Regions from separate parts of the Homo sapiens genome. Here regions 2, 3, 4, 5, 6 and 7 are each linked to region 1. Evidence: fine-mapped expression QTL. A gene starts in region 1. Each other region holds a variant in brackets. All regions are shown on one strand. Distances are from middle to middle.

Region 1 (4,064 bases):
CGGAGAGCACGGTGCCGAGACCCAGAAGAGCAGCCAGCTCTTGGCTGACACCAGCAAGTGCTAAACCAGATGCGTTTCTCAGACGTTCTCTCAACCCGCAGCCAGAAACGAGAGGCAAATCTGCCTCCTGATCAGCTCCTAGTTCACTCTGGGCTTTCTTTACTTTGAATATTTATGTTAAAAACAAAAACATTTCTCAAACATTCACCATCGTGAGTTCTGCTGTCCCGAAGTTCAGGACACAGTGACGGGCCACCCTGGAGCGTGTGGGGCCTGGTGTGGCTGGGCCTTCAGCCCTCCTTCTAGGCAGCACACCATGAATCCCCGGTGCCGTCTCCCGGAGGAACGGCGGTGCACGGCCCCACACTCACCAACGCCGGCCTGAGGTCGTATTACTGTAATTTCCCATAATGCTTAAATTATTTATCGCAAGTAAATAGCCTGGCTCCTGAGCGCTGGGCTCTAAAATTTTGAAGGATCCATCATACCTCTGCACGCTATCTATAAATGAAAAATGCACATTTCAAGTATTTTAAGAAAATGTCAAAAAACATGAAATGTGTCATCAATGTACGATTTTAAATGATTTGCATGTTACCTGTAGAAAAGAGCTGTATGTCTGCATGTGACTGTATTACAGTGCCCACAGGCAGACGCGGCACCACATCTCCCTGCAGGTGATAATTCGGGGGTCCCCGGGGCCCCCTGGCACCCCGGGAGGTGTCCCTGCAGGCCTGTCCCATGTCACCTCACCTGCCTTCTCTGCTTTCTATGGCGCCCACGGCTGCACGGTCACTCAGGAGACACCAGTCCCCGGGGTTGGCGGCTTTATCTACAGGACTCAGCAGCGCACTCGTTCCTGGCAGGGCAGGTCTTTGCACAACGGCCTGGCCCTGCCTCCAGCGCACATGGGTGAGCAGAGGATGGACACCGCGCGGTCACCAAGGAGACTGAGCCTCTGAGCGGCCGGGCCCCGCCACCTGTGGGGCAGGAGCCTCACTCGCACTCGGGCGGCACAGGTGAGCGCCTCTCTAACTGCAAAGTACAAACGAGCCCGCACGTGGGCCCGAGCGGATCACGGAAAGCGGAAAGCAGGGCTGCCACGGGCGGTGGGCGGAGGCGCGCGCAAGCCCGGAGACGCCACAGCCGCGGGGGACCCTCGCCCCGAGGGCCCGGGCCCAGCCTGCTCCTCCTGCGGCGCCGCCACTAGAAACGGAGGACGCGGGCGGGCGCCCAGAACTCGCGTGGGGCCGCAGCCACCCGGCGCGAGCTTCTCCGGAAGCCGGGGCGCCCCGGGAAGCCGTCCCGGACACCGGGGGAACCCCTGCGGGAAAAAGCCGCCCAGCCGCGCCCGCCCCTGCAATAGCGCGCGGCCCCCACGTCGTCCCCGTGCCCGCACTCACCGTCCTCCTTGTCGTCAAACACCGGCCTCCGCGCGGTGGCCGCCGACATGGACGAGCCCATCCTCTTCTTCCACTTGCTCCACTGAAACAGGGGGCGCGGCTGCGAGCGGACATCGCCCGAGTCCCGGGCCCGGGGCTGGCCAGCAGCGGGCGGCGGCAGGGCCGAGGGCGCGTCGGAGCCGGCGGGGCGCGCGCGGCCGGGGGGCGGCGAGCCCGGGGACGCCGCGGCGCTGCTGCCCCTGCGCTCGGCGCCACTCCTCATCGCCGGGTCTGGGTGCGCGCGGCAGCCGGAACTCGGGGCATGGCCGGCCGGCAGGGCCGGGAGCGGCAGTGGTAGCGGGAGCGCTCGGGGCCGGCAGCGCCCGCCGTGCGCTCTTCTGGGCGGTGGAACCCGCCCCGTAGATTGCGAGCGCTGGGGGCGGGGCAGGGGCGGGGCTTCTGGAAGGGGCGGGGGCGGGGCGGAGCTCCTGGAAGGGGTCGAGGCGGAGCTGAGCGCCGGGGCGTGGCAGGTGCGGAGCTTCGGGAAGGGTAGGGGCGGGGCCGAGCCGGGGGCGGGGCAGGGGCGGGGCTAGTGCCTGGAGTGTCGCTAGGGAGTGGGTGGCCGCCACCAGTCTAGGGATGGGGGCTGTGGTTCGCCGGGACACGGGGACCACGGCTCAGACTAGACGGCGGGTACGAGAGCGAGGGAGGCAGGGAGCGTCCCCACGGGTATCCTGGGGCCCCGGAGGTCGGCGTCCCTGGCACGGGGACTGCTGTGCCCGGCACGGCGGCGGGACCTTCTCGCGGTCTCCGGGGGCCTCCCTCCCCTGCCTTCTTCGTGAAAACAGCCGGCGCGCGGGCTTCCGCCGCCCAGTGCGGGGAGCCCTAAACTCCAGCCTTCTGCTTTGCGCAGGGTGAGGCCGGGCTGCAGGCCCGGGATGCGGGCGGCGGGAATCTGCCGGGCAGAGCCCGGCTCACGGTCAGGAGGCGGCAGGCTGAGTCCAAGCGCTGCGCCAGAGGGTGGGGTGGGGCAGGGCGGGCCTGGCTGCGCGCGCGCACACGCGGGCGCCTGGGGTGGGCGCTAAGCCCTGAGCACGTGCGCCCGCGCTCTCGGGCACCCCCGTGCCATCCTCGCGACCCCCGTCCGGCCTGAGACCGCGTGCCCGAGTCGCCCAGGGTCCCCTTGTCCAGATGCGACAGGGGCCTCGGCACTCGGCGTATTTCGGAGGCCTGGGGCGCGGCTTGACCTCCGGGCACCTCTGCCCCTGCGCAGGGCCAGGCGCGACCTTGCGCGGAAAGTGCTGGGCGCCTTGGAGTGCCCTGGAGAAGGCGCGGCTCTGCATGGAGCCTCGCCGCCTGCCCCTGGCGCTTGTCACTGAAGAATCAGTTTTTGCTACCGGGCTGTTTGACTTTAGGAAGCCTTTACCTCCTTAAGTTCTGCCCTGTAACCAGGACACAAAGACGGGGTCTCTTCCTCCTCGGTGAAATCCTAGATGGGATTTCCTGCTGCCCGCCCGGACGATGAGCGGATCCCCAACATGGCTCCAAGGCCAGTGTCTCCCGCTCCCGTCCCTCCCACCGCACACAACTGTCTACCCTGTCATTCAGCCACTGTGAGCCCTGCCTCCCCACGGCCTTTGACATTCAGTGTGGCCGCCCGCCCTAACCGCCTGATGCATGAAATGTGAGCACGGGAAGTCTGTGTGGCTTCTGGGCCAACAGGAGCCCCCATCCCTTGGGGACTATAAGGAATGGAACCATGCCCATCTACCTAGGACATGCACCCGCCTGGACATGCACCCGCCTGGACATGCACCCGCCTAGGACATGCACCCACCTGGACATGCACCCGCTTAGGACACATGGCATGCATTTCACTACTGAGATTTAGAGGGTATTTTTATGGCAGCATAACCTAGGTTACCTGACCAACCAGCCACCGCAGCTCTCCCTGCCTGGCTAGCACAAACGCATCGGTCTCTAACTTCCAGTGCACAGAGCCGAGTTTTCAGCCCTTGCAGCTGCGAAGCTCTGTTCCCTGCTCTCCCTCAAAGTTGCCATTCTCCAGCAGGCACGCAGAAGGCAGTGGGTTCAGCACCTGCCTCAGAGGAAGCCCTCGGTGCCCATCCCAGCAGGAGTGGTGAAGGAGCGTTTGGAAGGGGAGGTACCAAGGCAGGGCAGTGCCTGGAACCCTGCGTACCCGGTGCACACATCAGACTCCCCAGGGCTCCTCCCAAAACACGCAGCCTCTGAACTTACATCATCGCCTCTCCTCCTCTCCCTCTGACCCCTAAAAGTGGCAGAAAAGGAATAAAAGATATAACGTCCCCACCACCACCTAAGAGGGAACAGGAGAAGGGAAGACATGTTAATAGACTTCAGACAGCAGGTAGAAAGCTGACTCTGAAGATTGGAGAGGCTGAGGACCTGCAGGTAACCAGGACCCCAAAAGGCGGGAGAATGTGAATACAGCCAGAGCCCAGGACGCCTCCCCGGCCCGGGCAGTTGGGGATGGACAGTCCTCTGGTCTGAGGGTCCAAAGGGGCTCTTGACCTAGGGATACCAAGTCCTGCAGAAGACAAGAGTGCAGGGGGGCAGAGGGGTTCATGGGGACATCTGCACACTTAACTAGGAGACCCTCCAACCTCACCCTTGCTGTGAGCCTCAAACACCAAGCCAGGC
Region 2 (4,064 bases), 76 kb before region 1:
AGGAGGCCGAGGAGTCCCGTGCCCGGGATGGAAGCCCCAGCCTCACTCTGCACAGGCGCAGAAGCAACGGTGCTTTCCTGCGCCAGCCCCAGCACCCGCGGCCTCCTGCAGACGGTCACTGCAGGCTCAAGGCGGCCACTGCAGGTCTGGAAACTGCTCCAGAAAGGCTGTTTGTTGCCCTGGGGCTGGGACCAGACAGGCTGTGAGACAAATATGGTGGAAAATCCGGCCCTCACCCTCTGCCCCTCAGGAGCCTGGCTTGGGGCCACTGGCTGGGGCCAGGGCTCTTGCTGCTGGGGGGGAAGCTGGCGGGGGGGGGGGGGCTGCAGAGCCCACCTCTGCCTGGAGCGGCGCCAGCACCCGCAGCCCAAGGCCGTCTTCAGCCGGTCCCAAGCCTCAGGCTTTCTGTCGCTTGTGCACCACCCCAGAAAGCTGCCTGCCCAGGCGACCCAACCCTCTCCAGGCTCCCTCTGCCCCTCCTGCTCACGATGCAGCTCAGCTCTTACGGGGGAATCTCTGGAAGAACACGCCTTCCCTTGGGGTGCTCAACCCCCACAGCCCACTCACCAGGGGACAGGGCACCTGGGCTTCCCGTGCCCTCTGGGCCCTGTCACATGTGCGGCGGACACAGACCGGGTGTCTACTCCAGACAGGACCTCACCCTCCTGCCAGACAGGCTCACCCAGGACCACCCGCTTTCCCAAGCATGTGGCCTGGGCTCCATCTGGGACCAGCCCCTTGGCCCTGTGACCCAAGCCTGCTCTCCCCGTCACACGCATCCCATCACCCACAGCCAGGGAGCAGGGACAGAAGAGCCACCTCGAGACAGGGCCTGGCCTCGCACACCCACGGCTCTGCTGTCCACCAGAACAAAGCAGCAGATCCACTTGCCTCCAGCCTGTTACCCCACCTGGGAAACAAACTGCCTGGATGGTGGAGCCATCAGCCACAGTCCAAGCCCCTGGCCTGGCCCTGTGGGAGGAGCTGCCCTGAGGAGCAAGGGGAGGCAGGGTTACACTCAGGTCTCCCGAGTCTTTGGGCTCTGTGTCCTGGAACATTCTCAGCTCAACTGCAGTTCAAGAAAAGCTTGCAAGTCTTCCTATATGCCAGCCCCATGCAAGGTACTGGCAGTGCAGGGTGAGTGGCCATGGTGCCTCCCTGGAGACCCTGGTGGAAACGCCTCGATCCCTCACAGCAGGCCCGAGTGCGTCCCCAAAAGACACAGCCACCAGGAGCCTCGGAATGTGGCCTTATTCGGAATAAAGGTCTCTGAAGATGTAATTAAGTTGAGGATCTGGAGGTCCTGAATTGGGATGGGCCCTAAAGCCAATGATAGACACCCTGATAAAAGACAGAAAAGAGAAGATGACGCAGGCATGGGGGCGAGGGAGTGTGAAGGTGGAGCAGAGGCAGTGATGTGAAGATGCCAGCCTGGGAATGGAGTGACATGGCGGCAAGCTGAGGACACCACGAGTGGCCAGCAGCCACCAGACGCCGGGAGAAGGCACAGCGGGTCCTCCCACGGAGCCGCCCAGAGGGCCCACCCTGCCAGGTCTCAGGCTTCCCATCTCCAGGACTACAAGAGAAACTTCTGTTGTTTGCAGACACTGAGCTACGGAACTTGGTTGTGGCGGGAAACTCGCTTTCTCCACGCCTCCTGTGTCTCTGCATCCCTGATAACACCCTGCAGACTCTGAGCACCTGCGGCCACGCCTGCAGGCAGCAGCCTCACCTGCGCTCACGCTGCGCCCTCACCGGAGCACCTGCCAACCCAGCAGCCCACTTCCCCTAATCTCCTTCA[C/A]CATTTTCTGACCCAGGCCAGCAGGTGGGGAGCCTGTCCTGCCCCTTATCACTAGGACCCGCCCTCTGAGGCCTGGACTGTCAGGCACGTTGAAGGTGGTTTGGGGTGGTGTGGGGTTTTCCGTTGAAATGGATTTGATTAAGTCAATCACATCAAAGTGCTCTTAGGTGAAGACAACAGAGAAGAGGGCGGGTCCGGCAGGCTCCCTCGGGCCCCTGATGCAGGAGGCTCCAACGAGCGGTGGCGTAAAGCCCTGGGTTTGGTGCAGTCTCTGTCTGGAGGGACCTCAGCACCCGAGATCACGCAGAGCAGTGTTTACAAAAAAGACTGGAAACCGGCGGCCTTTTATGACCAGGCCTGGGGGGCTGAGGGCAGGCAGGTCCGACTCAAACGCTTCCTCCAGGAAACTGGTCCCTGCTTTCCCAGCCGCTTCCTCCAATCACCAACTTAAGCCCAAAGAGAAAATGGAGTTTGAGGTCTCACCACAAAGAGGAACAAGCCAACCCCGGGCTCCGGAGCCCTGGGCTTTTCCTATGAAACGCCACTGATGGGGAGGCCACAACGCCACCCGGAGCCCTGGGCTTTTCCTATGAAACGCCACTGACGGGGAGGCCACAGCGCCACCCGGAGCCCTGGGCTTTTCCTATGAAACGCCACTGACGGGGAGGCCACAGCGCCACCCGGAACAGGCTGGTGCCTGCAGCCATGTGACTGCCAATTCAACCAAATGCTGTTTATGCATTTGGCAGATTTAAGTGATTCACCCAAGCTCTTTCTCTTTCCAAGTAATTTTTGTTCCCCAGAAGCAAATGCCTGACCACAAGTACCTAAGGCCTCTAAACGGTATAATGAAACCACCTCCTAATCCTTCCTGGGGGAGCTTCTGGTGTCCCAAGGAGAAGTAGAGCCTGGGGACGTGGGGACAGCAGGGCGGGACAGGGCAAGGCAGGCTCCCTCCCAGGGTTCAGTGCTGGGTACCACAAAAACGGGAGGGTCAGTGCCCAGGACGGGGCTGGAGAAGGTGTCTGCAGCGGCTGAAGAAGGTGCAGCCCAGTATGGGGCCTCTGGGGAGGGCACTGGAGGCAGAGGGGTCCCCCAGGCAGAACCGGGCTCCCGTGCACTCCAGAGGCAGTTCCATCTCTCACTCTCCTCCTGCCCCTCCTGAGACCCCCCTGAAGCTGTTCTCTTGACGTCCCTGAGAAGCTGTGTCCCATAGGCCACTTGTCCCAGGTCCCTCTCCCTGGATGAGCTCAGGATTCTAACGCGGTGAGTGGGAATCCGTTTTGGGGTTTCAGTTTTCCCCCGATGCCTAGTGGCTGCTTCCTAGGCCATGGCTGGTGAAGTTAAGACGCCTCACGAGGCCACAAACCTCTCAAGAAGAGGTGGACCCTGGCAAGCTCACCAAGGGGCCTGGGTGGCGGCTGTAGTGGCCATGCTGCGATGGCACCACCTGGCACTGAGGCTCTTGTTCCATCCACTGCAGATGGCAGAGGGGGGTCTTTGTCCCAAGAGGCTGGGAACCCCCCATGCCCTATGGCTGTCAGGTGTTGGTGGCCAGGCAGGGGCACTCAGCCCACCGGCTTCCCAGGGGACGGAGCTACCTCCCAGGCCCACACGCGCTCCCGCCTAAAGCCCTTGTTTAGTCAGAACATTGCCGTGGGGCTAAGGCACACAGTTGCTGCGACTGCAGGATGGCCCCTTCGGCAACAGCTGCCTCCCCTCAGCTGCTTCATGCTGGCTGGAGCCTTACTGGGCTTGGAAGAGCAGATGGGCTGGGGCGCCGTCTGAGTCCTCGCCACTGTGGAACTACTATGGACATACTGTTTTCTGGTGCTTGCATGCAAGCGATCGTTCCGATGAGGTCTGGGATTCTTGGCTATCTTCAAACAGAGCTTGGAGATGCTGCTCCTGAGTGGCTGAGAACCTGTGGCCTCGTGGACTCTCCCACTTGGGGATAACCAAGGCTCTTAACACCTTGCCTGGCTACTCCCAGCTCTCCTCGCCCTGGGATCGAGGACCTGTGTGCAGGATGTGCATAATCCGTGATCCATCTTGAGGGCCACCCTCCATGCTGCCCGAGCTTGACAGCCGCTTCCAAGGGAGCTCTGCCGCTGTTTCTCCCTTGTGTCCTCCTGACACTTCCCGATGCATCCCCGAGTTCTGGGAGGCACCTCCACGTCCCTTCCTCTTCTGCCACATTCCCATGCCTTGCCACGGTCCCCTCTGAAACAGCGGGGGTTCCTCCAGCAGGTTTGCCCACTTC
Region 3 (4,064 bases), 67 kb after region 1:
TCAGCCTCGTTCCAGGGCCTCAGTCACGAGAGGTTCCTCAGCTGTTGAGGGAAGCCCCAAGGTGAGGGAGAGGCCAAAGCCAGCCGGCTGGGGAGCGAGCTTCGAATGGATGCGAACATTAGGGGACACTTAAAAATGACAAGCCAGAATTAAAATCCCCCCGTAGGAATAGACAAGTCTGCTGCCATGAAACCCAGCAAGCTGTTGTAGAAAGTGAACACTCAGGTAACCCAGAAGAACTCCCAAGGCAAAGTTTAATATGTGGCAAAAAATTTAAAAAATTAAATTAGTAGATGAATAAATCCCCCAGGAAGGGGAGGTGGGAAACAGATGGGACAAGAGGAAAGGAAGTTAGAGGACGACCTGAGCAGAGCGAAGCATCCGGCAGGTTCCGGCAGGTTCCAGCAGGAGAGACGAGAGCAGACGGAGGGAGAAGGTGCAGGAGGGCTCGTCACAAAGGAACCAACGTGCTTCCTGCTAGAAGGGCCCACACATGCCGGCACCATGGCTCAGCATCCCGAACCAGAGCAGGACGGACCCACGGAGATTCCAGGGAGGGCGGGGGGAGAGGATCACACAGAACCAGGCACTGGGAGGGAGCTGGTCGCGGTGATGGCACTGCCCTCAGCAGGCGCCGGGATTCGGTACTCCCATTGCAAGGTCAGGGGTCAGCACACAATAAGACGTTTTCAGATACGCAAAGACTCAAAATGCTGCTTCCCATCTAGAGAGTCTTTCTCCAGAAGCTACTGTAGAATTTGTTCTATCAAAACAAGGGAGTAGATGCTGAGAGAGGAAGGTAAGAGTTCCAGAAGAAAGGGAGCTGACCCAGAAGCCCCCGGCCGCCCCCTACTGTGAGAGGAGCCTGGCGGGGTCTCCACAGGGAGACCAGGTCAGTCTGAGGACTTGGCCAGTGGAGGAGGATGTCGAGAGAGGTTTACAGTTTGAGAGGATGTAATGACAGATGTAGAAAACAAACATTTTAAAAGGAGGCAGTTATGAATCCCACAGGGAATACAGGTTTCTATGGGAAGCAAAATTCGTTATCAATGACTACTTACTGGGTCAGTAACAAGTAACATTGACCAAGTCGCAGAGCTGAGCCGTGAGTGCTGCTCTAGCCCACAGTTACGATATGGGGGCGGGGGAGGCTGCAGGGGTCTCCGGGGACCTGTTGTGATATGGCTGCATGGTGAGGGGGTGCAGTGGCTCCAGGGACCTGCTGTGATTATGGCTGCATGGTGAGGGGGTGCAGTGGCTCCAGGGACCTGCTGTGATATGGCTGCATGGTGAGGGGGTGCAGTGGCTCCAGGGACCTGCTGTGATTATGTCTGTATGGGGCGGGGAGGCTGCAGGGGTCTCCTGGGACCTGCACTGGAGGTAGTGTCCAACCTGTGCCCCCAGCAAGGCAAGCCGGGGAGGGAGACGGGAGCCGGGTGGCCCAGGGCTCCTGTGCTTGGAGTGGGGGAGGTTGGGACTCTGCAGAGGGCCTGAGGGGCAGGAACGGGAAGATCCCCTCCTCAGTTTATCCACCTGAGGGCCCCCCGCAGTGCCCTCCTCAGCCTCACTTTGTTCTGCCCAGGGGATTGGCCGTGGACCATGAGGTTTGGAACAGAAAGCCTGCCCCTGGTTTCACGCTCAGCAAGTTCCTTCTCCTGTAGGAACCCCTGATCCACAGCTTCTGTGTCTGTGGGGTGGGGGTGGCAATTGTGGCCCCATCTGCTTCCCAGGACAGTTACGGCTCTAAGGTGTGGTCTTGGCTGTGGTGATGCTTGCCAAGACACTGCCCGGGGTGTGGCATCAGCCTTCCCTTTGCCCACAGGACGATGCCCTGAGTCTCTGTTCATCCATTGACCTGTGCAGATGCACAGGACACCTGGGTGGGGCCGTGGGGACACCAGGATGAGTGGCCATGTGTGTGCCTGCAGAGGGTGGTGTCCTCATGAGGTAGAAGGCCTGGGAGCCGGCTGGAAGTAGGCTGCTGGGCCCCATTGCAGGGGGGACCGCGCCGTGATGCGGCTTGCAGGGGCCCCGGGGCAGCGGGGCTGGCTCTGCTGACGCCCACATGGCCTGGGCCCCACGTGGAATCTGAGCCAGAGACGTGGTGACGCCCTAAGTCCTGCCAGCCTTTCTAACATCTCCCCCTCCTTGTCTCCCATAAGGCCACAGAGCTACAGGATGAAGTATTGAAGCTAAAATTGGGATTAACCTTGAACAAAGATCGTCGACGGGCGGCCCTCACTGGAAACCTTTCGCTTGGCCTGCCGGCAGCACAGCCTCAAAATACATTTTTTAACACAAAATATGGAGAATCAGGAAATGTTCGCAGATACCAGTGACACCAGGTGGCTGGACTGATGGAGACGTCTTCAGACAGGAGCCGCTCAGTCTTCTTTCCCGGGCGTCGCCTCCTGTGTGGTGCCGGAAGAGCGCCAGGTTCAGTGTTACCCTGAGGGCTGATTTCGC[G/A]CAGCCTGTTGTTTTCCTTAGACAGGTCCACGTCCCTCTCCTGAGGCTGTGGAAGATTTCAGCCGTATTAAAAGAAAGGACACTGTGAGCACGTGGTCTCGCCTTCCCTTCTTCCTGCAGGTTCCCGCCAAGCCATGTGACAGAGTGCTCACACTCAGGCACTTGCCTCTCTCCTGTCCTGGAGCCCTTGTTACAAAAGTACTCACAGCTTTCCTTCACTTAGTTATTTGAGTGTGGGAGAGGAGACCAGGTCACCCGATTCCCGCCAAGCCGGAAGTCCCTGCAGCACCACCTTTGGCTAGGAGGGAGGGGTGACAGCCAAAAAGGGCTTCGGGGGAGTGGTTACCCTGCTCCCTGCCCAGTGACAAGCCCTCCTTTCCCCTGGGGGCCCTCCTTTCCCCTGCTCCCTGCCCAGCTACGGGGCCCTCCTTTCAGCCTTGACCCCTTCCTGGTTGCTACCACTCAGGCTGCCACTCAGTGGACTCCACCCCAGGGACACGGCAGGGTCTGCAGACCTCCCCATGCTAGATCAGCCGTATTTCATGCTCTGTCTGCCCAGGCTGTGTAGATTCTGTGTGACTTAGTCTCTTGTGCTGAGTGTTTGCTTGGATCTTGAAAACATCTTTGGTTTGATTTCTTTAACAGAGGTGAGACTATTCAGACTTTGTTTATTTTTGTGTTAATTTTGGTAAATATGGTTTCAGTGAGTTTCCTCATTTCATCCAAGTTGTGCAATGTATCAGCATAAAGTTCCTCTTATTTTCAGTATCTTTAGGATCCGTAATAATGTCCCCTCTTTTATTCTTGACCTGGTGTTCTTCATCATTCTTGCTATGGATTTATCAATTTTGTTCCTCTTTTCCAAAAGCCCCAGGTTTTGGCTTCACTGGATTTGCTGTTTGTCTTCTGTCTCATGGGTCTCTGCGCCCTGCACTTCGTACTTTCCGAGAGTTTAACTGGTGCTTAGAGAGAAATGCATCACTTCCAAACCCATGTATTAGAGAAGAAGGGCGTGAAATTTATCACCTAAGCTTTCCATTCAGGAAGCTAGAAAAGGTGTCAGTGACCTGTTGCGGCCCAGCGGCTGGAGCAGCAGACGTTTGCCATTTCTCACGCCTGAGGGCAGGCGTTGGAGCAGCTCAGCCGGCGTTGCTGGTCAGGGTCTCCCGTGAGGCTGGAGTCAGCCGTGGGTTGAGCTGCTCTCCTCTGAAGGTTTAACTGGGCTTGGGGCTCAGCTTCCAAGGTGCTCACCTGGTTGTTGATCAGAGAGCGTGTCCGTTGTGATCCCAGTCCTTTGAAACTGTGAAGCCTCGCCCCGCGGCCTGCCGCAGGATATGTTTTGGTAAATGTAGACTGTGCACTTGAGAAGAATGTATTTTGAGTTGTTGGGTACATTGTTTTGTGTGTGTCAGGTGACATTGACTAATCCTGTTGCTCAGAGCTCCTGTACCCTTACTGACTGACTTAAGCCTGGTTTCTCAGTTACTGAGAGAGGCCTGTGAACAGTTCTAGCTATGATCATGAACATGTGTTTTCTTCTTAGTTATGTGAGTTTTTGCTATACGTGTTTTGGGGCTATTTTGTCAGATGCCTACAAA
Region 4 (4,064 bases), 22 kb after region 1:
CCAAGAGCATCGCTGAAAACCAGGGCTGGAATAAGTCTCTTGCCTCTGTAACTGCCCTATGGGTTCACCTTGCCTGCTGCCTAGACAGAGCCCATTTACCAAGACAGGGGAATTGCAATGGAGAAAGAGTAATTAACGCAGAGCGGGCTGTGCAGGAGACCGGAGTTCTACTATTATTACTCAGTCAGTCTCCCTGCGCATTCTGGGATCAGAGTTTTTAAAGATAATTGGGAGGGTGGGGCTTTGGGACATGAGGAGTGCTGATTGGTCAGGTTGGAGATGGACTCATAGGGGGTCGAAGTGAGGTTTCCTTGCTGTTTTCTGCTCCTGGGTGGGTGCCCGAACTGCCGGAGCGAGATTACAGGTCTGGGTGGTGTCGGCTGATCTGTGGAGTGCAGGGTTTGCAAAATATCTCAAGCTCTGATCTTGGGTTTTACAATAGTGATGTTATACCCAGGAGCAATTTGGGGAGGTTTAGACTCTTGGAGCCAGAGGCTGCAGGACCCCTAACCTGTAATGTCTAATATTGTACCTAATTTGTTAGTCCTGCAAAGGCAGATTGGTCCCTGGGCAAGAAGGGGGTATTTTCGGGAAAGGGCTATTACCCATTTTGTTTCAGAGTCAAACCATGAACTGAATTCCTTCCCAAGGTTAGTTTGGCCTATGCCCAGGAATGAACAAGGACAGCTTAAAAGTTAGAAGCAAGATGGAATCGGTTAGGTCTGATCTCTTTCACTGTCATAATTTCCTCAGTTATAATTTTGCAAAGGCGGTTTCACTTCCATGAAAGGAATGTGAAAAAACATACAACTTCTGCAGCGATATCTGGAGATGGAGACGAGGACAGCCTTCGGCCCAGCCTCTTGCTGGCTCCAGGACTGGATCTACAGTTCCCAACGGCAAGGCCAGGCAAGCACCCAAGCATGACCCCAAAAGGCTGGACGGAGGCTCCTGCCAGAGCATGACACACAGTGAATACTCAGGGAAACAGAACATAAGCCCCCTCTGCAGAAGCCTGCAAGCCTAGATTTCAAAACACAGGACTCCAAGAAGACAGATAACAGTATCAGCCATCAACTGGTAAATTCCGCCCAGGGGAGATGAAAACAATAAAGCACAGTTTAAAATAAATGTGTCTACCCCGGGCAGTGGCTCAGGACTGGCAGTGGCTCACGCCTATAATCCCAGCACTTTGGGAGGCTGAGGCAGGTGGATGGCTTGAGCTCAGGAGTTCGAGACCAGCCTGGGCAACATGGTAAAACCCGTCTCTACAAAAAATACAAAAATTAGCCCAGTGTGGTGGCACATGCCTGTAGTCTCAGCTACTTGAGGGGTTGAGGTGGGAGGATTGCTTGAATCTGGGAGGCAAAGGCTACAGTGAGCCGAGATCACACCGCTGAACTCCAGCCTGGGTGACAGACTGAGACCCTGTCTCAAAAAATAAATAAAATAAATAAATAGAGGTGTTTGGGATTCTCATGGTAGATAAAGAAAGAAAACAGCCGTGAACATTAAAAACAGATTATAAAACAAAAACTGGAAGAAATTAGACACAAAAAAGAAAATTAGAAATAGAGACCAATGCGGTTTTATTTAAAAACTCAACAGATTAAACAAACTAATTGGATGGAGACAGAACTAGTAAACTGGAAGATCGTAAACTGAGAACACAGAGACCAATACTGGGAAGCGCAGTTTGAGAGATGGAGAAGACACTGAATGGGTGCAAGCTACTCCCTTTTAGGAGATCCAGAACAAGAATTATGTCAGGGTGCAGAGGTGCCACGGGAGGACAGATGGCCGGGAAGGGCTGGGAACTGAAACTTAGCTATCTCAGGTGAGAAGACACGGCCAGCGCCAGGCAACACAGCCAAACCAACTTATACTCAGAAATACCACAGCGAAATTTCAGAACAAAGACATGAAAAGAGAAGATAGATTTCCTTCATGGAAGTAGCAATGCCACGGGCAGCAAACTTCTCGGCAGGGTAGCAGCAGTCGCTGCCCGGAGGAAGGTCCTAAAATCAAGACAGGAAATGACTCAACAAGGAACGCGGCACCAGCTCCACAGCCACTCAATAATCAGATCAACACGAACACTTCATTCGTTCCTACGTTGGGAGGCTCACCCAAGAATACTTGCCAAAAGGCTACCAATGGATACAATCTGGCTGGGCAAAAACTGAGCACAGTAAAGGGCAAAACATGCTCGTACATACAATTAACTACTGACTACAAAAATTAATGTAGCATGAAAAATGTGAAACAAAAACCTGAGGCAACAATAACAAGCAAGAGGGAATACGCTCAAATGGTTAGTAAATGTTTTATTTGTGAAAAGAGATACTGGAATGCTGAAACTTGTTAGAAATAGCATCGTGCTGAAATCTTCCATCCCCTTCGCCACTCACGGCAACACCCATGTCACTCCTCATTCTCTCCTTGCTCTGCCCGGGTGGCTGGCCTCCCCACGCTCCTGAGAAGGTACTGGTTGTGCTTTCAGCTTCCTGATTGGTAGATAGTTGGGTATGTA[C/T]GAAAACTTTTTTTTTGAGACAGGGTCTCGCTGTCACCGAAGCTGACATTAAGTGGCACAATCATAACTCACTGCAGCCTCAAAATCCTAGGTTCAAGCGATCCTCTTGCCTCACCCTCCCACACAGCTGGAACTACAGGTGTGTGCCACCACACCCAGCATTTTTTTTTTTTTTTTTTTTTAATTTTTGTAGAGACTGGGTTGCCCAGGCTGGTCTCCAACTCCTGGCCTCAAGCGATCTTCCCACCCTGGCCTCCCAAAGTGCTAGGGTTACAGGCGTGAGCCATCGTGTCCGGCCTAAAAAACATTTCTTACTGTGATCTCTTCACAAAAATAAAACGTAAATCCCCTCAAAGTGGATAGTCGTTTCTCCACATAATTATGTCGTTTCCTTTAAAAAGTGGAATCAGGCCGGGCACGGTGGCTCATGCCTGTAATCCCAGCACTTTGGGAGGCCGAGGGGGGCGGATCATGAGGTCAGGAGATCGAGACCAGCCTGGCCAACATGATGAAACCCCGTCTCTACTAAAAATACAAAAATTAGCTGGACGTGGTGGCGCGCGCCTGTAGTCCCAGCTACTGGGGAGGCTGAGGCAGGAGAATTGCTTGAACCTGGGAGGCGGAGGTCGCAGTGGGCCGAGATCGCGCTACTGCACTCCAGCCTGGGAGACAAAGCAAGACTCCACCTCAAAAAAAAAAAAAAAAAAAAAAAAGTGAAATCATGGCAGACTCCAGCTAAACTGTCCGGGTTTCCAGAGTGTTTCTGGGTGGGACAGAGGGTGCTACTTTTCATTATCAGTTGGATCCTGGAATGAAGGTGCACGGGACTCCAGGGTTCCACAGGACCACGCGAGCACCTCCCCTCCCGCCCGGTGTCATTTCATCTTCTTCCAAATTCTCAAAACCCTTCCTCAGGACACTCACTGCGTTTCCTCGCCCCCCTCACTCCTCCGTCCAGAGGCAGCCTTACTTCTCCAAAGAGGACGCTCTGAGTCTGCGTTCCCCTGGCAGCAAGTCCTGAGGCAAGATTTGGGGACAAGCAGCTCCTGTGGGAAGTGGCTCCAGGAAGCCCCAGGAGAGACGCGGGGAGTGAGCCCAGCGGGAAGGACAGGCAGCGAGGACCGCTCCAAAGGTGGTGCCTCAGCAGCAATTCTTTTCTGCTCGGCTGTCCTCGAGCAGCCCCGCCCGCCCCGGGCCCTCCGGCTCCCCAGACGGCACTTAGCATCCCGCTCTCTTCCTTCCCCTCTGTGCCAGGCCGGTCGCCCCTCCAGACCCTCGCGGTCTCTACTTGCCCGTCGACCACCACCCCTTCAAGGCCGCGGGCGCGGAAAAACGGATGCTACCGTTGGCCGCGTGCGTGCGCAGGCGCACCACCCCCTGCCACCCCCGCGCAGGCGCACCACAACCCCCCCACCGCAAGCGCAACCCCCCGCCCCAGCGCAGGCGCACCACACCCCGCCCCCTCCCGGGCAGGCGCACCACACCCGACCCCCTGCCGCGCAGGGGCACCCACACCCCGCCCCCGCACGCA
Region 5 (4,064 bases), 52 kb before region 1:
GCACTTCCAATAACAAACCATGTTAGGAAAGCCCAAAGCCTCAGTGGAGTTTCAGGTTAAAACCTAGTCTTTTCAGGCAGGGCGCGGTGGCTCATGCCTGTAATCCCAGCACTTAGGGAGGCCGAGGCAGGTGGATCACGAGGTCAGGAGATCGAGACCATCCTTGCCAACATGGTGAAACCCCGTCTCTACTAAAAATACAAAAAATTAGCCAGGCATAGTGGCGGGCGCCTGTAATCCCAGCTACTCAGGAGGCTGAGGCAGGAGAACGGCATGAACCCGGGAGGCAGAGGTTGCAGTGAGCCAAGATCGCGCCTCTGCACTCCAGCCTGGGCAAAAAGGGCGAAACTCCATCAGGGGAGAAAAAAACAACAAAAAAAAATAGCCTTTTCATAAGCCAGGGCTTGTATCAAAACTGGTAAGAAAATACTCCCAATGAGGACAGCAAAAGAAGAGAGGAGAGTAAAATAAGCCTGCCGCAGGGCGCCGGGAATCAGCACTATGTCACCCCGGCACAATGCGTGCACCCTCCACGAAGGCTGCCCCCAGACCTGGGAGCCCAGGAGAGTAAAATAAGCCTGCCGCAGGGTGCCGGGAGTCAGCACTATGTCACCCCGGCACAATGCGTGCACCCTCCACGAAGGCTGCCCCCAGACCTGGGAGCCCAGGAGAGTAAAATAAGCCTGCCGCAGGGCGCCGGGAATCAGCACTATGTCACCCCGGCACAATGCGTGCACCCTCCACGAAGGCTGCCCCCAGACCTGGGAGCCCAGGAGAGTAAAATAAGCCTGCCGCAGGGCGCCGGGAATCAGCACTATGTCACCCCGGCACAATGCGTGCACCCCACGCGAAGGCTGTCTCAAGAGCTGGAGAATCAGCTCTGCTCCTGACACCCCAGGTCCCCTCTTGATGTCTTTGGAGGCCCGGGAAGTGGGTGCTGGACAGTTTCAGAGCTGCCACGTGGTGGATGAGCTGCCCACAGCTGCAGGCGTGTCCCAGGCCTGGGACGCTTCCCTTCACAGCCCACCCCACCCACTCATCCGGAAGAGGCCCCCACGTCCAAGTGTCCTCAGGCAGAACCAGCCCGTTCACCAATGGGAGGATTGCACAGCAGAAGTGGGCACTACTGTGAGAGCTGTCACAAAGATCAAATGTCACACGTGGTTGAAACACACGCAGAAGTTGATTAAATGCCGTCTCGTCTCCTATGACCTGGGAAGTGCTTATGATGAGGAAAATCATCCCCCAGGACTCCGAGACGCAGGCCCCGCAGAGCTTGTGCAGCCTCTGGGGATGTCTGGCCCACACGGGGCTCCTGACTTAGGAAATACCGGGCCAGGTGGAAGAGTTGGAACCGGCCCGATAGCTCCTCCTGGCAATGGGTGCCCCCCACTCCCACTCCTCAGGTGCCCTGGCCCGCTAGGTCAACAGGAACCACAGGAGTCACCAGACATCACCTCACAGACCCCTCACCCTCTTGCCATGGCCTGCGGGAACAAAGACCCACCACGCTGACGGGCAGGGTTGACGCAGATGGGGACAAGACAGGTGGGGGCTAGAGACAGGCATGAGAGCCGCTGGGCAGGGGTGAGGAGGCTCCCGAGTTACAGCGGAGAACATAGAGCAGAAGCGTCCAGCCACAGCAGCACCCAGGAGAGGAGCAGGGGGCCCTGC[A/G]GGAAGCAGGTCCCTCAACCCTTGCTGAGCCCCACGCGGTTTCCTGCACCACTGAGGATGTGTTGAAACCCCAGGGCAGGAAGGTCAGAGATCAGGAGAGGGGATGAGGGTGTGGGTGCCGGCCTCTGACCCTGGACTCCTCAGTCCAGAGGGGGCCTGGAGCCTCGAGGTCATGCCTGGGTGCCAGCACCATGGCCCAGCATTACGTGCGCTGCCCACGCATCTCCGAGGGCCCAGCTGGCCACCTTCTCCTTCTCCACCGTCCCCTCACCCAGGGGCAGACCCCCATGACCAGCAGCCTGCAGCCTCTGCACACCCTGGAGCCCTGGTGTCCAGCTTGGACTCGCCCGGGTGGCTTGGCGGCTTCCCGGCATCCCTGGGCAGCTCCGGGACAGGGCTCTGTCCTCAGCTGGCACCACCACCCTTCCAGCCTCGGGGAGCCAACTGGGGTCTTACTCTGGGAACATACCCTGTGCCCCAGGCTCCATCTTGGCAGCGATGCCCTCACCCTGTCTTTTCTGTGAAACAGACACAGCCAGGATGTGGCAGCAGCCCACAGCTGAGTCCTGTGGGGCCCCTGGGCTCCGAAACAATTGTGGCTTCTCCTGCCCAGGTACACACCCAGAGCCCGGGGTCCTGGTGCCTACACCTCCAGCAGGACCCTGTTGGCGGCAGCATTCTTGCCATCTCCCTCCCCCACCTTAATTGCAGTGAAAGCTTCCACCCATAAAACAGGCTCAGTGGCAGCTTCCCAGGCCAGCACTGTGGATCCTGGTCCTGTCTGGTCTGAAATTGTCTGGAATCATGTTCCGGTGTTTAATATCGACATCCTCAGACAACACGGGGATCTGCCATAAATGAGTGATTAGGGCAACCGCCTGATCAATACAGTATCTCCGGGTGGCAGAGGCTCAGGCCTGAGACCGCAGTGCCTGAGACCGCAGGAGTCGCCCACGGCAGCAGGGACCTGGGCTCCTCCAGCTCCCCAAACCGCTGGAGAGGTGGGCAGCAGCACCTCCCCCCAGGCTGCCTAGAGGGGTCCTACTGTCCAAGGCCCGGCCCCACCCACCCCTGCCTCTCACTGCGCAGGGCCCAGCACCCCAGGACCACCCACAGGGGCAGACCTGGAGGACTCCAAGGCCGCCTGGCCCTGCAGCAGCTGAGAAGCCTGCTCCTGGGGCTGCCCGCCCAGAGGCACAGATGCTTGGGGACCCCGGAGCTGCAATGGAGACAGCCCTGACTCGGGGTGGGGCTTGGGGTTCCTCCTGAGTCCTGAACCCTGAGGCAGGTGTGCCTAGCCAGTGGGGGGGACGCTGGCCACAGCAGCAGCAGCACTGGATGAGGGGGAGCGAGCCCAGTGGGATCCCAGGGCTGGGGATCAAAGCAGAACAGCCCAGGAAGGAGCCCTGGCCAGGAGCAGATGGATGGGCAGGGCCCTGTGTCCTGGGGTGTGGCTGCACCAAGGGCCACACTCAGGGCTCGCTGTGGGACCAGCTGGGGGCTGCCCATGAGGCTGGGTCCTCAGGGGGGTGAGGCCTGTGGATACAGGACATGCCCTGAAAGACCCCAGAGGTCAGTGTGTTCAGAGGCCAGCACGAGATGGGTAGGTGTGTGGGTGGGTCAAGGCTGGAAAAAGCCCTGTCCACGTGTCTGTCCTTCCATCCTCCCACCTGCAGCCCCTGGGGTCCTGCACAGCCCTCCCACACCCGTGCCACTGTCTCCCACAGAGGGAGACGGAGGGGCTCCTAGGAAGAGGTGGCTCCTGGCAGCCACAGGCCCCTAGGCCAGCGGGCTGTGGTCATTCAGGGTGCCTGAGAGCTCCCAGGGAGAGGGGCAGAGCTGGAGGAGGAGTGACTCAGAGCAGGGAGGGAGCATCACACCCCCCAGCCAAAGAGATGGGCGGGGCGGAGCTGCGAAGGAGTGGGTGGCAGGATGCTGCCTGTTCTGGCACAGAAAGCCACATCACCCCTGTCCACCCCATCTGGTGCCCACCCCCTGCTGCCGGCCCCCTGCCCTGCCCTCTCTCTGCCTCTGTCCCCAGGGGCGCCCACTGTGAGCCAATGATGGCAATCCCAGGCCTGACACCCCCACAATCCTCCCCCCAACCCCCACCCTCCACCAGGCCCCTCTGCAGACACTAGGAGGGGGCCCCAGAACCAAACACCCCCAGGGGACCCATCAGCTGCCCTGGGCTGGGGGCTCCTCTACACCTGCAGGTGGGACTCAGGGCTCTCGAGCCTCCACTGTGCAGCCTGCCTGAGGCCCAAAGGAGGCCGCGGCCCAGCAGGCCCCTGAAAGCCACAGGCCCTGACATGGGCTGCAAAGACCAGCAAGGCTCTCCTCAGTGCACGGACTCCACCTGCCCCGGGAAATCGGTCAGGACGAAGGGC
Region 6 (4,064 bases), 82 kb before region 1:
GTCCCCTGAGAGGTGTTTGCAGTGGGCAGTGGCTGCCCACCTTCCCCAGGAGGCACTGGGGCAAAGGGTCCCGGAGATAGCATGGGCTTGAACCCACCCACCCGACACCCTCCTTCCAATACGTGGGACAAGGGGACGTGGCTCAGGGCTCCTCTGTGGTGACCGGCAGGGCGGGCGCACAAGCCTGCTGTGAGGGTGCCTGGAGACGCAGCTCAGGGGATCACCAGGACACCAGTGACCTGGTAGGGCTCGCCATGAGAGGGCCACAGAGCCTGCCACCAGCTCGCTTCCTGGGGCTTGGGGCTGCCATCTGCGGAGGCCCCCACAGGTTGCAGTGAAGGGATCTGTGCCTGCCAGGAAGCGGCACTAACTGTGCACTGGAGGGGGTGTCCCGAGCCGCAGGTAAGTGAGGGAGGGAGGTGGGTGCTCGGAGGGTGAGGAGGCTCAGGGATGGGGGCTCACCTTCCGCAGCAAGGCCACCATCTCCTTGGACCACGTGGGGACATACTGGACGCTCACGGTGCTGAACAGCTGCACCAGGGACTCCACGGCGTTGCTGGAGTGGATGTCATAGGGCCTCTGGAGACAGGGAGGCAGTGCTGGGCAGGTCCTCCTGGCCCCCAGGACACCCAGAACAATGCCAGACACAGGTGCCATCGCCCTGAGAGGACCCCCTCCCCCCACCCCAAGTGCAGGCACAGCTCTGAGCACAGCCTGGCCTCCACCTGCCGCGGAGGAGCCTGGGTGAGATAAAGCTTACGCCTGGGTCCTGCGCCCTGGCTGCTGCGCCCATCTGGCTGGGATCCCAGGGGGCCTGGGTCCAGGTAGATCAGCCCCAGAGGGCCAGGAGGGAGCTGGCTTCCTCAGAGGTGGGGTCCTGTGCAGGGCTGAGGGGTACGGTCCACAAGAGGACCCCCAGCCTCCCGGTCTCCAGGACTGGCCTCGCCGTGGCCACAAGGGTAAGAGCACAGGGCCCCAAAAGAAACTTTTTGTGGAAAGTTCCGAGGCAGCACCCCTGCTGGCCAGTTCTCAGCCTTGTCCACCCCCACAGAGGCTGGCCTGCAGGCACCAGCAGCGGCCCCGGGAAACCACAGTGAGTCTGTCCTTCCTCCTCCTGCTCAGGCATTCCATCACCAACTACACACTTCGATAAAAGCGTGACTCCTCAGACACAGTGGAGACATCCCTGCGCACCTGGACACTGGGGCAGCCACCCCCTCCCCAGCACTGGTGGGGGCAGAGAGCAGGGGCCTGGCAGCCAAGCCCAGGGGCTGCAGGGGGTCCATACCCATCCTCGCAGCAGCTCATAGGCCATCACCCCCACCGACCACCAGTCCACCTCGAAGGAGTAGCCGGTCCCGCCGTTGACAAAAGAGTGGAAGATCTCCGGAGCTTTCCGACAGAAAGAAGGAAAAACAGCTGCCACGGGGTCACAGCCCGGACCCGTGGGCACAGGGCCGGCACCTTGAGGCCACATCCCGAGACCAGGCTGCCTCCAGGGTGGGACAGAGAAGCCACCGAGGTCTTGTCCTTCCCACCTGGAGGAAGCCAGCTCCCATCTGGAACCCCAGCTCGGGCTCACCCATGTACGGCTTGGTGCCTGCTAATGCCGTCGCCCGCTCCCCGTCCTTGATGATGGTGGCAATGTTGAAGTCGGTCAGGTGTGCATGTCCTGTGCAGAGAGGGGTCAGGTGTGGCTGTCCCAGGACCAGAGATGCATCCTTGCGTGCAGGATCCTCCTCCCCTGACAGGCCCATCCCTGCCACCACCCACCTGGGCTGCCCACACCCAACCCCACACACCTCTCTCATCCAGGAGAATGTTGTCAGGCTTGACATCTCTAGAAAGAGCAGAAAGTGGGAAGGTGAGTTGGGAATCTGCCCTGTTTCTGCCCTGGAATCTCTGTCACAATCCCTGGAGTCCCCAGGACATCCCACCAACCCACTCGAGGCAGAGGCCTGGGAGCTTGACTTGGTCCTTGGATGATGCTAGGACCTCACACCCCTGCGTGGGGGCAGAGGCGATGAAGTCAGCCACTTCGTTCCCTGTGGCATCTGGGCAGCAGCACACACCTGGCACCAGATGCTGGGAGGGGGCCTGGAGCCCCAGAGGACGAGAGCAATTGCTGGCAGGGTCTGCCCTCCCCCTCCAAGACTCGGCCTCTAGGAGACCAAGCCACCTCGGCTCTTGCTTTGTCCCAACTTTTCCAGGTACACAGCCAGTGCTCAGTGACTGGTGCCTAGGTCATAATCAGACATCCGAGTCCCCAAGAGCAGAAATGCAAACACCAGTCCATTCGACTTTAAAATATACCTCACAGATATTTTCATTTTGTTCCATTGCTGCGGAATTTCAGCCTAATTTCTGCTTCCCAATTTCACTTCCTTCATAATCTGCTTCCTATTTTCTTTTTTTAAATTTTATTTTCAGAGCCATCACACC[A/G]GCTCTGCTTCCTAATTTCATCTGCTTTAAGCTAATGTTAAAATTAGTTTGGATTCCCTGGGATGTGGTGGATGGGCAAACAGGAGCCTTCAGTTAAATGGACCAGGTGAAGGCCACCTGCTGTGACCCAGCCTGGTGGTCTGTCCACCAGGGCTAACAGCCCACTGTGCCCAGTCTCAGCTGGGGCTGCTGGGACGAGGTCCCCCCAGATGGACACCAGGCACACAGCTATGGGGCTGACCTGGTCGGCACAGGTGCCACAGCTGGGGGCAGGCACTCAGGCAAGGGTGGGGCAGAGGAGCTAGACCCGCTCTGAGGGAGTACGGCCGCCGTGCCGGCAGCCTGACCTAAGGCTGCTTCAGCCCCGCCCACCTCAGCAGGTACCTGCGCCGTCTGCCACGCACACACCTGTGGATGATGTGCTGGCCGCGCAGGTAGTCCAGAGCCAGTGCCATCTCGCAGATGTACAGCCTCACCGTGTCCTCGGAGAACTGCACGTTCTGCTGCAGGTGGTAGCGCAGGTCCCCGCCCAGTAGCAGGTCCACGACCATGAACATGTCCTCCTCGTCCTGGAAGGAGTACCTGTGGGCACCGATGGAAGGCCTGTTGTGCGCACAGCTGGGGAGCCAGTCATGGCTGCTCCCACAGCTGACACACTCCCCCTAAGGACCACAGCCCCACCCCAGCATCAGCCACCAGGCATTCCCAGGAGGAGGGGCCTGCCCAAGGCACTGATTGCACCCCAGCCCAGAGCAGCTCTGAGCCCAGATCCTGAGGAAAGACACACCACCCTGTGCTGGAGGTGGCCCAGCTGGGGCCAGAGGCACCTGGGAGTGGCAAATGCAGAGCAGAGCTACAGTGCCAGCTCCGGGTGCTTCAGGCTGCCCGGCCTCCTCTTCGGTAAAATGGGGATACAGACATTTGCCTCGGAGGGTTGTTACAGAAAATGAGGCCGTGTAGGTACCACTCTTGACAGTGTTGGGCAAAGAGCTGGCATTTAACAACCAGCATCCATGGTGTTGACGATGGCAGTGATGGTGGTGGTGGTGACGGTGATGGTGAGGATGACGGTAGTGAGGACTGAGGGTGGTGGTGATGGTGATAACAGTGATTGTGGTCGTGGTGGTGGTGGTAATGGTGGTGACAATAGTGATTGTGTTGATTATAGTGATGACGGTGATGAGAGTGATGATGGTTGCAGTGGTGATGGTGGTGGTGATGGCGATGATGGTGGTGATGGTGATGGTGATGACAGTGGTGAGTTTTTCAGTCCCTAAACTCTCTCCCTCTCTGACTAGTGCCAGAGACTCCATGGGAGCACATCTCCATTGTAGGGAAGCCCTGGTCTTCCGGCAGGCTCAGAAGAGACACTGCATTAACCAACCCCAGCATGTCATGGCCACCTGGGCCACTGCCAGGCCTGGGGCACAGGAAGGGGGATAGATGAGGAGGGCTAGAGAGGGCCTGTGGGTGGCAGAGGCATCTCCGAGGCACGAGGGCCAAGGAGCACCAAGGGCAGGAGAGGATAGCCAGTGCCTTCCCGGCTTCAGGACGGTAAGTCTTTCTGCAGCGAGGCCATGGCAGGCTCACCAGAGGTTCACCAGGAAGACGTGCTCGATCTC
Region 7 (4,064 bases), 58 kb after region 1:
ACCGTGGGGCCTGAGCTTGGAAGGCCCAGGGCCTGGCCCCGGCCCTGCTGCTCAGCGTACGTCTGCCAGGGGGCTCCCCACTCAGTTTAACGTACCCTGGATCCCGGCTGCGATGTAAGAAACCTGGAGGAAGGGTGAGGTGGGATGAGATGTGGGTGACAAAGGGCATGTTCTGTTCCTGCAGAATTTGTTCCTCCTGGAGGCTGACAGTGTTTAGGGAAAATCTCGAAGGCCAACTAGGTTGTATTAACTCCCCAACCTCGTGAAAATGGCTTAGACTAAAACCATTTCGTCTCAAACATTTGAATGTTCTCTTACATCCTCCAGGGAGTTTACCTGCCATATTTGGCCTTTAAAAAGCCCACAGCAGACCACAGTGGCCCGCTAACCCCCCATCACCCTGGGCACAGTAAAAGCTGGAGTCTGAGGCGCTGACACAGGGCATGCCCTGACCTGAGGGCTCTGTTCTGTAGAACTCCAGAGGACATCATGCTTTCTTTTCCATAGTTACTCTGAAAAGCAAGCAAAACCGGCACAAACCCTGCTGCTGGGAGTAAGAGGGTCTTCGGAGAGGCTGAGTGAGACTGTGTGCCATTGTATTCACAGTGGCGCATGCACCCACGCCCGCACCAACACCCACACCACACCCATGACCACACCCACACTTAATCTACCTCCACACCCGCGCTTACACCCACCCACACTTACACCCACCCTTACATCTACCTCCACACCCGCGCTTACACCCACGCTTACATCTACCTCCACACCCACACTCACACCCACCCACACTTACACCCACCCACACTTACACCCACCCTTACATCTACCTCCACACTCGCACTTACACCCACACTTAAATCTACCTCCACACCCACACTTACACCCACGTCCACACCCTGGGGCCCCACACTCAGGCAGTCCGCGTCCACGCTTACATCTACCTCCACGCCCACACTTAACACCCACCCACACTTACATCTACCTGCACACCCACGCTTACACCCACGTCCACACCGTGGGGCCCCACACTCATGCAGTCCGCGTCCACACTTACATCTACCTCCACGCCCACACTTACACTCATGCTTACATCTACCTCCACGCCCACACTCACACCCACCCACACTTACACCCACCCTTACATCTACCTCCACGCCCACACCCTGGGGCCCCACACTCACGCAGACTGGAGTGGACCCCGCCACCCCACAGCTCACCTGCAGCAGATCCCCAGCTCTTTCTACCACCCTGAGTCATTGTCTTTAAAATTAAAGGAACCCCAAACCCCTGAGCCCCAGTGCTAACAGAAAATATGTTTAAAATCATAATTGAATACACTTTTCTGTTTGTCTGTTTAAGGATTTAGGAAAACCGTGTATTCCATGTGGGAACAGAAACCTGCTTTTCCCTTCATGTGGTGCAGTGTGCAGTGTCCTAAATGTGTCATATCTTAAATCAATTTGAGGTTTTTAAATAAGAATAGTGTGTGTTCTGGCAGCTTCTGAACTACTGAAGAAGGGATGGGAGAGGCAGCCCAGGCCCCCCGGCGTGAGTCTGGAGGAGAGTGGGTGCCGGGGAGGCCCAGGGCAGCGCCACAGTAACTGGCACAGCTGTGCGGGAGCCTCAGGACCGCTGTTTGGTCTGGGAAGAAAGGCACATGCTTTCTCCCTGGTTATGGCGGGAGTTGCTAGGATGAGAGTAAATGTGTCAAGTCATTTCCCTCTTTGCCCTTTGTTTCTCAGTGCCCTGCAGGAGAGAAATTTAGAAGAGAAGATAAAACAGCACGTCCTCCAAATGCGTGAGCAAAGAAGATTCCATGGCCAGGCCCCACTGGAGGAGATGAGGAAGGCTGCCGAGGATCTGGAAATTGTAAGGATTTCTTGGTTCTGTTTAAAAAAGTGTGGGGTGTTTTTTGTTTTGTTTTGTTTTTGTTTTTTTGAGACAGAGTCTTGTTCTGTCACCCAGGCTGGAGTGCGGTGGCACAATCTCGGCTCCCTGCAGCCTCCACCTCCCAGGTTCAAGCGATTCTCCTGCCTCAGCCTCCC[G/A]AGTAGCTGGGACAAGTGTACACCACCATGCCCGGCTAATTTTTGTATTTTTAATAGAGATAGGGTTTTGCCATGTTGGCCAGCCTTGTCTCGAACTCCTGGCCTCAAGTGATCCACCTGCCTTGGCCTCCCAAATTGCTGGGCCACTGTGCACAGCCTAAAACATTGTTTTATTAAAAATAAAGAGAACTCACTGTGCCTCTTCAGAGCATGCGCTCTCTAAAACCGTGGGACTGTGTGGAATGTGTCTTATGAGGTGTAGAAATTCCCAGAATTACAGTTGGTCACATGAGAAGGAAAACATTTCAGCCGAGGGGCTGAGCCCTCAAATGTGCCAGGCCACATGGCGGGCCTTGGCATCTCAGCACTGGGAATCTGATGGCAGGAGTGGCAGCCTGCTGACAGGGACTGGGAACCAGTCCTCTCCACATGTCTGTGGGGTCCTTGCTTGAGGTTTTGCACCCAGCTGATCCAGGCTGTGGGCCCAGGGCTGGGCCATGAGGGGCGTCACTGCAGAGAGGGGTCTGGCTGAGGCCACCGGACCATGGCTGACACGCTCGGTGTCTATGTAGGGAGGCCGATATTCATGGGGATCCAAGGCCTCCTGACCAGGAGCCTCCTAAGCAGAACTGCTCACGGAAGTGGCTCCTATATATTTGGAATGTTAACCATCCTCTCAGCCACCGCCAGTGCTGTTTATTCACTCAGCATACGCTGATGCCCACCTCCTGGTACTTGGAGTATCCTGGGCTGTGGGAGAGACGCAGGAATGAAGGAAAGTGCTTTGCTGCCCGAACTGCTGCCTGGCCAGCCCATCCAGCTGTAGAAGGACACAGCTGCTGTCCCTGGCAGTGAACCTGGATACCCGTGTCCCCACCCTTCCTGCAGCCATAAGGATTCTGGCCTGTCCTCTCAAGCTACCCAAGGCCCCTGGCTGGTGGCCTCTTCCAGGTCAGTGTACCATGCCCGAACACAGGTCAGGCTGGTGCGAGCTGCATCGGGGCTGCCCCCAGAGCACGCAGCACTGTCACGGGGGAGGAAGCAACCCTGGCCTTCCTGTCCCCACACCCCATCTGCAGGCTCCATTCCCACCATTTCCGCTGTTTCCCTCTCTCCTAGAGCCGGAGATGGGAGAGAGGAGGCATGAGGGCAGGATGTGGAGCCACTTCATGGAGACCCCACCCAACCTGACTCGGACCCCACTTCTGAGACTCTTTTCCTCCTCAGCCCAAGGAGTTTGTATCTGCCTTTAGATAAACTCTTATTCTTTCTAAATCCATCGTTTATGAGTATGACCTTGTCCTTGGACACCCAAACCCTGCCTCTTAGGGCTGCAAAACATCTGTGTCTTAACCCATCACTTCACATTAGGGACACAAAAGTCGATTTGGTATTATGAACAACTCTAGCCACAGATTTGATAAATTTAGTGAAATAGATTAATCCCTTGAAAGACAACATCTGCCAAAACTTACAGAAGAAATGAATATGCTTGTATCTATTACAGGAATTCAATCAATAATTAATTACCTTCCAAAACAGAAATCACAGGCCCAGAAGTGTTCACTGGTGAATTCTACCAAACATTTAAGGTTTAAGGAAGAAACTATACCAATTCTCGATAATCTCTTCCAGAAGACAGAAACAGAGAGAAAACTTTTTAGCTCATTCTCTGAGGCCAGCATTACTCTAATACCAAAACCATACAAAGATATTACAAGAAAGGAAAAGTGTAGACCAATATCGCTCATGAATGTAGACGCAAAAATTCTCAACATTCAGAAATCAAATCCAGCAATGTGTAAAAGCAATCACACACCCTAATTCAACGTTCAAAAATCAGCCAATGCAATTCATCACATCAGTAAGCTAAACAAGAAAAATCAGTTGGTTTTATCAATAGATGCAGAAAAAGCATCTGACAAAATATAACACCTATCATGATAAAAACTCTCAGCAAACTAGGATAAGCTGAGAACTTCCTCAACTTGTTAAAGAACATCCAGAAAAGACTTA

Evidence for each region. PIP is the estimated chance that this variant, and not a neighbour inherited with it, causes the effect.
Region 2: its variant is fine-mapped to the expression of STK32C in whole blood (INTERVAL, PIP 0.98).
Region 3: its variant is fine-mapped to the expression of STK32C in whole blood (TOPMed, PIP 0.99).
Region 4: its variant is fine-mapped to the expression of STK32C in testis (GTEx, PIP 0.92).
Region 5: its variant is fine-mapped to the expression of STK32C in whole blood (TOPMed, PIP above 0.99). The same link has a PIP of 0.9 or more in NK cells, blood mononuclear cells and naive CD8 T cells.
Region 6: its variant is fine-mapped to the expression of STK32C in whole blood (TOPMed, PIP above 0.99).
Region 7: its variant is fine-mapped to the expression of STK32C in pancreas (GTEx, PIP above 0.99).

What each region holds. Positions count from the first base shown.
Region 1 is chr10:132,306,169-132,310,232 of GRCh38, forward strand. It overlaps STK32C (serine/threonine kinase 32C), which reads right to left and starts at 1,782. Exons shown (of 12, transcript NM_173575.4): 1 at 1,404-1,782. The coding sequence starts at 1,665. RefSeq lists a silencer at 1,606-2,255 and enhancers at 2,508-3,052, 3,053-3,595.
Region 2 is chr10:132,230,370-132,234,433 of GRCh38, forward strand. All of the region lies in intron 2 of STK32C (serine/threonine kinase 32C), which reads right to left. Among named protein-coding and RNA genes, the nearest start is that of DPYSL4, 45 kb to the left of the region's middle. The variant C/A (reference allele first, on the strand shown) is at 1,802.
Region 3 is chr10:132,372,904-132,376,967 of GRCh38, forward strand. LRRC27 (leucine rich repeat containing 27) reads left to right here. Exons shown (of 11, transcript NM_030626.3): 11 at 2,163-4,064. The coding sequence ends at 2,339. Among named protein-coding and RNA genes, the nearest start is that of PWWP2B, 22 kb to the right of the region's middle. The variant G/A (reference allele first, on the strand shown) is at 2,467.
Region 4 is chr10:132,327,979-132,332,042 of GRCh38, forward strand. It overlaps a transcript of STK32C not described here and a transcript of LRRC27 not described here. Among named protein-coding and RNA genes, the nearest start is that of LRRC27, 2.2 kb to the right of the region's middle. RefSeq lists an enhancer at 3,498-4,032 and a silencer at 3,917-4,036. The variant C/T (reference allele first, on the strand shown) is at 2,534.
Region 5 is chr10:132,253,953-132,258,016 of GRCh38, forward strand. All of the region lies in intron 1 of STK32C (serine/threonine kinase 32C), which reads right to left. Among named protein-coding and RNA genes, the nearest start is that of STK32C, 52 kb to the right of the region's middle. RefSeq lists enhancers at 301-802, 803-1,302. The variant A/G (reference allele first, on the strand shown) is at 1,675.
Region 6 is chr10:132,223,945-132,228,008 of GRCh38, forward strand. STK32C (serine/threonine kinase 32C) reads right to left here. Exons shown (of 12, transcript NM_173575.4): 3 at 4,033-4,064; 4 at 2,851-3,024; 5 at 1,803-1,840; 6 at 1,583-1,672; 7 at 1,289-1,392; 8 at 463-579. Among named protein-coding and RNA genes, the nearest start is that of DPYSL4, 39 kb to the left of the region's middle. The variant A/G (reference allele first, on the strand shown) is at 2,443.
Region 7 is chr10:132,363,679-132,367,742 of GRCh38, forward strand. It overlaps LRRC27 (leucine rich repeat containing 27), which reads left to right. Exons shown (of 11, transcript NM_030626.3): 10 at 1,746-1,872. Among named protein-coding and RNA genes, the nearest start is that of PWWP2B, 31 kb to the right of the region's middle. The variant G/A (reference allele first, on the strand shown) is at 2,049.